2 linked regions of the Homo sapiens genome follow. The protein of the gene in region 1 interacts with the protein of each later gene in a pairwise test. Each region holds a gene or a part of one and is shown in the gene's direction. Other genes may lie near its edges.

Region 1 (4,890 bases):
TTTATTTATGACTTATTTTTCTTCATCACCCTTAATCTGTCTTTCCTGGGCTTTATAAATTTTGACATCTTTATAAAAAGAATTCATGTTTGATTTCGTCTTCTCCATTGCATAATTGTTTTCTATTTTACTTACTTATCTGTTTATCATTTCCTTGTTTTTGCTTTCTTTAAATTAATTTGCTGAGCTTTCTGGTTACTTTTTGTGGTTAATATTTTGATCATTAAATTTGAGTGTTTATGCTTTTTAAAAACATGCTTGTAATGCTATAAGCATCATTATGAATAAAGCTAGAGATAGTCCTATAAGTTTTGATACAGTGCATTTTTATTAGCATTTCGTTTCAAATATTTTGAAAATGTTTTTATAATTTCTTCTTTGACCTATTGACTATTTAAATACATACTTTTTCTCAACTATTTGAGAATTTAGTAGAGTTTTTTAAATTTCTAGATCAATTTCATTTATTTTGGACTATGTTGTAATTTTTATTCTTTGCAATGTTTTGAGATTCACTTTAGGATAAAGTCAATTTTTATAAATGTTCCAAGTTAACTTGAAGAGAATCTGACTTTTTCATTTGTTAGCTATGACATGTTGTATATGTCAATTGGATCAATTGAGTTTGTTTTGTTCAAGTCCCCTATATCCTTACTGAATATTTGCCTATTAATTTTTTCTTTATTTCTTTACTTATTTTTATTTCAATAGGTTTTGAGGGAACAGTAGGTGTTTGGTTGCATGAAAAAGTTTTCTTGTGTTGATTTCTGAGATTTTGGTGCATTCATCACCCGAGTAGTGTACACTGGACCCAATGTGTAGCCTTTTATCCACCTACCTCCCTTTCCCCTGAGTCCCCAAAATCCATTGTATCTTTCTTATGCCTTTACATTATCATATCTTAGCTCCCACTTGTTTTCTGCGCTGGTTTCATGTTTTTGCATTTGTGAATTGTGCTGCTATAAATATGCATGTGCAAGTATCTTTTTCGTATAATGACTTATTTTCCTCTGGATAGATACCCAGTAGTGACATTGCTGGATCAACTGGTAGTTCTACTTTTAGTTCTTTACAGAATCTCCACACTGTTTTACATAGTGTTTGTACTAGTTTAAGTTCCCACCAGCAGTGTAAAAGTGTACCCTTTTAACCACATCCATGCTAACATCTATTATTGTTTGTTTTTTTTTGATAATGACCATTCGTGCAGGAGTAAGGTGGTATTGCATGTGGTTTTGATTTGTATTTCCCTGATCATTACTGATGTTGAGTATTTTTTCATATTTTTGTTGGTCATTTGTGTATCTTCTTTTGAGAATTGTCTATTCAGGTCCTTAGCCCACTTTTTGATGGGATTGTTTGTTTTTTTCTTGCGGATTTCTTTCAGTCTCTTGTAGATTGTGGATATTAGTCTTTTGTCAAATGTATAGACTCTGGAGATTTTCTTCCACTTTGCGGGTTTTCTTCCACTCTATGGGATTGCAAAGATTTTCTCCCACTCTGTGGGTTGTTCATTTACTCTGCTGATTGTTTATTTTGATGTGCAGAAACTTTTTAGTTTAATTAAGTCCCAAGTATTTATCTTTGTTTTTGTTGCATTTGCTTTTGGGTTCTTGCTTATGAAGTCTTTGCCTAAGCCAATGTCTAGAAGGATTTTTCCAGTGTTATCTTCTATAATTTTTATGTTTTCAGATCTTAGATTTAAGTCCTTTATCCATCTTGAGTTTGATTTTTGTATAAGGTGAGACATGAGGATGCAGTTTCATTCTTCTACGTGTGGCTTGCCAATTATCCTAACACCATTTGTTGAGTAGGGTGTCCTTTCCCCACTTTATGTTTTTGTTTGCTTTGTCAAAGATCTCTTGGCTGTTAGTATTTGGCTTTATTTCTGGGTTCTCTATTCTATTCCATTTATCTATATGCCTATATACCAGTACCATGCTGTTTTGGTGACTACAGCCTTATAGTATAGTTTCAATGTAACGTGATGCCTCCAGATTTCTTCTTTATGCTTAGTCTTTCTTTGGCTATGTGCTCTCCTTTTTGCTTCCATATGAATTTTAGGATTGTTTTTTCTAGTTCTGTGAAGAATGACGGTGGTGTTTTGATGGAAATTGCATTTATAGATTGCTTTTGGCAGCATGGTCATTTTCACAGTATTGATTCTACCCATCCACGAGCATGGGATGTGTTTTCATTTGTTTGTGTCGTCTATGATTTCTTTGAACAGTGTTCTGTAGTTTTCCTTGTAGAGGTCTTTCACTTCCTTGGTTTGGTATATTCTTAAGTATTTTATTTATTTATTTAGCAGCTATTGTAAAACAGGTTATCTTATTGATTTGATTATCAGCTTGGTCGCTGTTGGTATATAGCAGAGCTACTGATTCGTGTATATAAACTTTGTATCCTGTAATTTGCTGAATTCATTTATCTAGGAGCTTTTTGGAAGAGTCTTTAGGGTTTTCTAGGTATACAATTATATCATCAGGAAACTGCATCAGTTTTACTTCCTCTTCACCAGTTTGAATGTCCTTTATTTCTTTCTCTTGTCTGATTGTTCTGCCTAGGACTTCCAGTACTATGTTGAATAGGAGGGATAAGAGTGGCATCCTTGTCATGTTCATGTTCTCAGGGGAAATGCTTTCAACTTTTCCCCATTCAGTGCTACATCGGCTGTGAGTTTGTAATAGATAGCTTTTATTACAGTAAGGCAGGTCCCTTCTATGCCAATTTTTCTGAGGGTTTTAATCACAAAGGGATGCTGGATTTTGTCAAATGCTTTTTCTGCATCTATTGAGATTATCATGTTATTTTTGTTTTAAATTCTGTTTTTGTTATGTCCTTTCCTGGATTTGGTATTAGGGTTATACTGGCTTCAAATAATGATTTAGACAGGATTTCCTCTTTCTGTCTCTTGTGTACTAGTGTCAATAGGATTGTTACCAGTTCTTTCAATTGCTGAGAGAGACACATTAAAATATCTCACTAAACTTTTGGATTTTATTTTGTCAACTTTTAAAATTTAAACTGAGACTGTATTTTTAGTACATAAGAATTAATTAGTATAATGTCTTCCTTTATTATTATAAAATATTCCCCTTTTACTCAAATAATGCTCTATTTTTACTTACTGTCTACTTTGATATTTAAACTATAGCAGCTTTCTTCATGTGTAAATTTCCATTCAAATTTCACTTTCTATATCTTTACATGTAAGGTACTGCAACTGCAGGTGATTTTTGTAAAATCTGGTTGAACAGTCTTTGTCTTTTAAAGTTGGAGACTGTAATGCATTTATATTGACTGTGGTCAGTTGAATTATTCTTTTAAAATTCTGTGTTTTCTCTCCACTCTTGCCATGCTTCAATGTGAGTTGAGCATATGTCCTGCCTCATTGACTTTAGGTTTCTCCATGTGTCATTTGGGATATAGATAAAATAATTCCTGCCTCCTGTGCATCTGCTCTATATTATGGGAATATCATTTCCCAGATAAGAAGGGCTCTCTTAGCCTGAGTCCCAAAATAAGAGGATAAGAGGAATACACCAGAACCCACCTGACAGCCTGGAGCAGAGCTGCCAAAAATCTACTCCTTAGCTGCTAAAAAGCAGTCTAGCAACAAAACAAAGCAAAACAAAACAAAAAATATTTGCAAGCCACAAGGGCCTTTAGGCTGTATTAATATAAGTGTAACCTAATGAAAGCCAATAAATATAGAAAATAGTTCCAGAACTGTTGTATTGCTATACAAAATGTAAAATATGAGTCATTAGCTTCTGGGTGGGGAAAATTCTTACAGGTGACTGAAAAATAAATGGTAACCCACGTTATACAGTGTCATACCATTTGGTAAGATTACCACTTGTGATAACTTGAAAATCAGGGAAGTTACTTAATAAACATAACTTTGCTCAATTGCTGGCAAGTCAGAATGTTATTAGCTTTAGTTGATTGTTTTCGCTGCATTTCTTAAGTTATTTTAAGGTAGAAATGAGCTAAAAAAAATTGGCATGTTTACCAGTAGGAATGAAAAAAATAAAATAAGAGAGATAATCCAGACATGTTTTATCTCATAGGGTTAAAATGTGACAAGTTACTCATCTCTGTTTAACAGCTACTAGTGGGATCAGTGAGATCTAGTCAGACTAGAGTGAAGAACCTGTCTTTGCTGTCTTTGGGATCAGATAGACTTGATAGATTTTTTACACCCCAGCTCAGCCACTTATTAACCATATGATGTGTTGTAACAGTTTAAAAAGTTGGTTTCTGCCCTGATTACAAACAATTGCAAAATGTCAACAGCTTAAAATAATGAAGGTTTTTTTTCTTAGTTATGCCAGGTATCCAACATGAGTGAGCTGGGAGGTCTATTTATTATTCAGAGTCCTGGTAACTCAGGATTCTGGGGACTGATAATCTGGTAGGGCTTTATGGGATCACTAAATTTTGAGTAGGAATGTTAGTACCAGCTATAGGAACATAGAATCCACTGTGCTAATTTATGTATATAATTTATCTTTATATTTTAGTTAATACTTATTCAACCCTGGGTAATTTTGTTGATCATTCTTTAAACTCTTCTAATACTTCTAATGGTGATGTAGGCACCAGGAGCTGTAGTAGAAACTAAAGGAATGATAAGTGAGACAGACACGGTCCCTGGCCTCAGTCAGTTTATGATTTCTAGAGATCCATTACAACAGCATGAACCACAGCATGGGTAACTGCCACCAAAGACTTATGGAGTGTCAAACCTGCTCTGGAATACTTGGCTAGAGGGAGACTTATTTACCCATAATGGTGGTGTTTGCTTTTCATTTTCTTTTGATAGATTATTATTTTTTAATTTTATGACAACTCCATCTCTTCAACTTATTCTTCAGTGAAAGC
Region 2 (4,515 bases), on another chromosome or scaffold:
CAGGAGATCGAGACCATCCTGGCTAACACAGTGAAACCCTGTCTCTACTAAAAATACAAAAAATTAGCTGGGCGAGGTGGGGGGCGCCTGTAGTCCCAGCTACTTGAGAGGCTGAGGCAGGAGAATGGCGTGAACCCCGGGGGGCGGAGCCTGCAGTGAGCCGAGATCGCGCCACTGCACTCCAGCCTGGGTGACAGAGCGACACTCCCTCTAGAGTGCAGCCTCTGCTTCTCAGGTTCAAGCTATCCTTCTGCCTCAGCCTCCCAAGTAGCTGGGACTACAGGTGTGAGCCACCATACCCGGCTAATTTTTGTATTTTTAGTAGAGACAGGGTTTCACCATATTGGCCAGGGTGGTCTGGAACTCCTGACCTCACATGATCTGCTCGCCTTGGCCTCCCAAAGTGCTGGGATTACAGGCGTGAGCCATCGCACCTGGCCTACCACTGACTTTTGATTACTCAAAGCATGAAGGGTATATATGATGGGTCTGCAGGCATCGTTCCTGAGGAATTGTCCAAGGAGACCCCAGACCTGGCTCAGTTTTTCTCTTCCCTCAGGAGGAGGCCACTGAGGGATCCCAAGAAGAGGACAACACCCCAGGCAGCCTGCCCTCAGTGAGTGATTACAGTTTGGGATGGGGACAAGTGGGACCTTCAGGGAGGGTTGTGGATGGTGATGGGGTCAGTAATGGCCCCAAGTGACTGGAGCTTTGGGGGCTGCAGAAACCACCCCCAGGCCCTGTCCCCTACCTTGGCACCTTCCTTACGGACCTGGTTATGCTGGACACAGCCCTGCCGGATATGTTGGAGGTCTGACCCCTGACCCTTGACCCCTGACCCCAGCTCCACTTGCCCCCAGCACAATGGGCCTCCCAATATCCACCCTTGATCCTACCTGTACTCCTGACACCACCCCACACTCCCTTACTACAGTGGGGCTCCTGACATCCCAGCCCCTGACCTTGACCCTTGACCCTTGACCCTGGGTGCTGCAATTCAGACACACTTTGCCCCCAGGGGGATCTCATTAACTTTGAGAAGAGGAGGAAGGTGAGTGGAGGCTACAGTGGGTGTGGTGGTGCCTGAGGGTGGGGGTGGGGCAGGGGTAGGGTCTTAGAGGCTCGTCCTCCAGGAGTGGGAGATCCTGGCCCGCATCCAGCAGCTGCAGAGGCGCTGTCAGAGCTACACCCTGAGCCCCCACCCGCCCATCCTGGCTGCCCTGCATGCCCAGAACCAGCTCACCGAGGAGCAGAGGTGACCACCCTGTAGCCTGTCCCAGCCCCACCCCAGCTGAGCCTGGGTCACCAACTGGATTCCACCCACTCCATACACACCTCCAGCTCCTCCCAAGACCCCCTCTTGAGCCCTGATCCCCCACTACAACCTGTGACCTTGCAGTATCTCCAGTCGAATCAAATAGACTGGGCCTGGTGGTTTACTCGTGTAATCCCAGCACTTGGGAGGCCAAGGTGGGTGGATCACTTGAGCCCAGGATTTCGAGACCAGCCTGGGCAACATGGCGAAACCCCATATCTACAAAAAAATACAAAAATTAGCTGAACGTGGCTGGGCACGGTGGCTCACACCTGTAATCCCAGCACTTTGGGAGGCCGAGGCGGGTGAATCACATGAGGTAAGGAGTTTGAGACCAGCCTGGCTAACAGAGTGAAACCCCGTCTCTACTAAAAATACAAAAAAAAAATTAGCCAGGTGTAGTGGCAGGCGCCTGTAGTCCCAGCTACTTGGGAGGCTGAGGCAGGAGAATGGCGTGAACCCGGGAGGCAGAGCTTGCAGGGAGCCGAGATGGTGCCACTGCACTCCAGCCTGGGCAACAGAGCGAGACTCCGTCTCAAAAAAAAAAAAAAAAAATTAGCTGAATGTGGTGTTGAGTGCCGTTGGTCCCAACTACTTGGGAGGCTGAGGTGGGAGGATTGCTGGAGCCTGGGAGGCAGAGGTTGGAGTGAGCCAAAATCACGCCACTGCAGTTCCAGTCTAGGTGACAGAGTGAGACCCTGTCTCAAAAAAAAAAAAAAAAAAATAGTCACAATTGACCTCTGACCTCAATTTCAACCCCATCTGATTTTCTGACCTCAACTTTAGCATTCAGCTGGCCATTCAACTCAACTGTCCCATCTGTTGACTTCCCCATCTTTGGTCCTATCTGACCCATGACCTTATTCATGACCCCTCATCTGACTCTCTGACCCCAACCCTTGACCCTCAGTTCTGAGTAACTGACTCCAACTTTTATGTTTGACTGTCCAGCTTGACTATGACAACTGTGTCCTTTCTTTCTATATAACTGTGACCCTAACCATTGACCCCAATGGTGACCTGACCCCAGTCTGACCCTGACTTTATTTTATTTATTTATTTATTTATTTATTTATTTATTTATTTATTTATTTTTGAGACAGAGTCTGGCTCTGTTTCCCAGGCTGGAGTGCAGTGGAGTGATCTCGGCTCACTGTAGCCCCCGCCTCCCAGGTTCAAGCAATTCTACTGCCTCAGCCTCCCCGGTAGCCGCAATTACAGGCGCGAGCTACCACACCTGGCTAATTTTTTTTGTATTTTTAGTAGAGACGGGGTTTCACTATATTGGCCAGGCTGGTTTCGAACTCTTGACCCGAAGCAATCCTCTCGCCTCAGCCTCCCAAAGTGCTAGGATTACAGGCGTGAGCCACTGCACCCAGTCCTGACCCTGACTTTAATCCTGACCCAATTTGATTCCTTAGTGCCACCCTGTGAATCTCTTTGTGACCTCCTGACCAGCCATCCTGTCCCATCTCTGATAAGACCTTGATGCTCAATGACCCTCATTTACCACCCTGACCCTGGCATGTGGGGTGCCACCTCTGGCTGCTCCCCCTTACACCCCAAACCCACCTCCCAACTGATTCCAACTCTTATCTCTCCATCCCCTGTATTTCCTGCCCCCACCACCTCATCCACATATTGACCCCTCAGCTACCGGCTCTCCCGGGTCATTGAGCCACCAGCTGCCTCCTGCCCCAGCTCCCCACGCATCCGACGGCGGATCAGCCTCACCAAGCGTCTCAGTGCGTGAGTCTCGGGGTGTGTGTAGGGGCGGTGATGTGGGCAGATATCAGCAAGGGCTGCTCCTGCCTTAGCCTCATCCCCTGTCCCCATCCTTAGGAAGCTTGCCCGAGAGAAAAGCTCATCACCTAGTGGGAGTCCCGGGGACCCCTCATCCCCCACCTCCAGGTGAGCATTCTGCTTGGTGATGGGACTGGGGATCATGGGATCAGGAGTCAGCACAGCCACCCCACCTCAGCCTCTGCATCTCCCCCAGTGTGTCCCCAGGGTCACCCCCCTCAAGTCCTAGAAGCAGAGATGCTCCTGCTGGCAGTCCCCCGGCCTCTCCAGGGCCCCAGGGCCCCAGCACCAAGGTACCAAGACGGCTTGTGTGTGCATGCGGGCCTGCGGGCACCCAGGCTCTGTGTGTGTGCACGTGTGTGTGCATGCACATGTGTACACACAGGATTGTGGGGCCAGGAGTGTATACAGGAGGCACACTGAGCGCCCGGGGTATCCATCCAGGGGATTGCATGCATCTGCACGGCCCTGTTTGGGTGATCACTCATAAATCCGACTCGTGCTCAGATTTGGACCTGTGTAACTGCTTGCCCATGGGTCATCTAGGGTGCAATCACATCACACCCCTTTTTATTTGAAACAGGGTCTTCTTGCTCTGTCACCCAGGCTGAAGTGCAGCGGTGCAATCTCAGCTCACCGCAACTTCCACCCCTCCCCCAGGCTCAAGCAATCCTTCCACCTCAGCCTCCCAAGTAGCTAGGACCACAGGTGTGCACCACCATGCCCTGCTATTTTTTTTATTTAGTAGAGATGAGGTTTCGCCATGTTGCCCAGGTGGGTTTCGAACTCCTGAGCTCAAACAATGCACTCACCTCGGCCTCCCAAAGTGCTGGGATTACAGGTGTGAGCCACCGCACCCAGCCTACACTTTTTTGAGGACATGTATGTCCCTAAGAATCTGCATACCATGGCAGACACGGTGGCTATTGCCTGTGATCCCGGCACTTTGGGAAGCCAAAGTGGGAGGATTGCTTGAGGCCGGGAGTTCAAGACCAGCCTGGGCAACATAGTGAGACCCTATTTCTATTAAAAGTCAAAAAAATTAGCTGGGTGTAGTCCCAGCTACTCAGCAGGCTGAGGTGGAAGGATCGCTTGAGTTTGAGGCTGCAGTGAGCTACGATCATGCCACGGCACTCTAGCCTGCATGATAGAGCGAGATCCTGTTTATGAAGAAAAAGAGACTGGGCACGGTGGCTCACGCCTGTAATCCCAGCACTCTGGGAGGCCGAGGTGGGCGGATCACGAGGTCAAGAGATCGAGACCATCCTGGCCAACGTGGTGAAACCCTGTCTCTACTGAAAATAGAAAAATTAGCTGGGTATGGTCGCGCACACCTGTAGTCCCAGCTACTTGGGAGGCTGAGGCAGGAGAATCACTTGAACCCAGGAGACGGAGGT

Evidence for each region. Proteins that work in one complex are often made in the same cells at the same time.
Region 2: the proteins of RIT2 (region 1) and RGL3 interact in a two-hybrid assay, tested with the Homo sapiens proteins (one large-scale study listed by BioGRID and IntAct).

Annotation. Positions count from the first base shown.
Region 1 is NC_000018.10:42,744,721-42,749,610, reverse strand, and holds part of RIT2 (GTP-binding protein Rit2), read left to right. Parts: intron 1-4,890.
Region 2 is NC_000019.10:11,398,751-11,403,265, reverse strand, and holds part of RGL3 (ral guanine nucleotide dissociation stimulator-like 3), read left to right. Parts: intron 1-559; coding exon 560-616; intron 617-724; coding exon 725-811; intron 812-1,018; coding exon 1,019-1,051; intron 1,052-1,133; coding exon 1,134-1,255; intron 1,256-2,968; coding exon 2,969-3,064; intron 3,065-3,157; coding exon 3,158-3,226; intron 3,227-3,296; coding exon of another isoform or gene 3,297-3,314; coding exon 3,315-3,411; intron 3,412-4,515.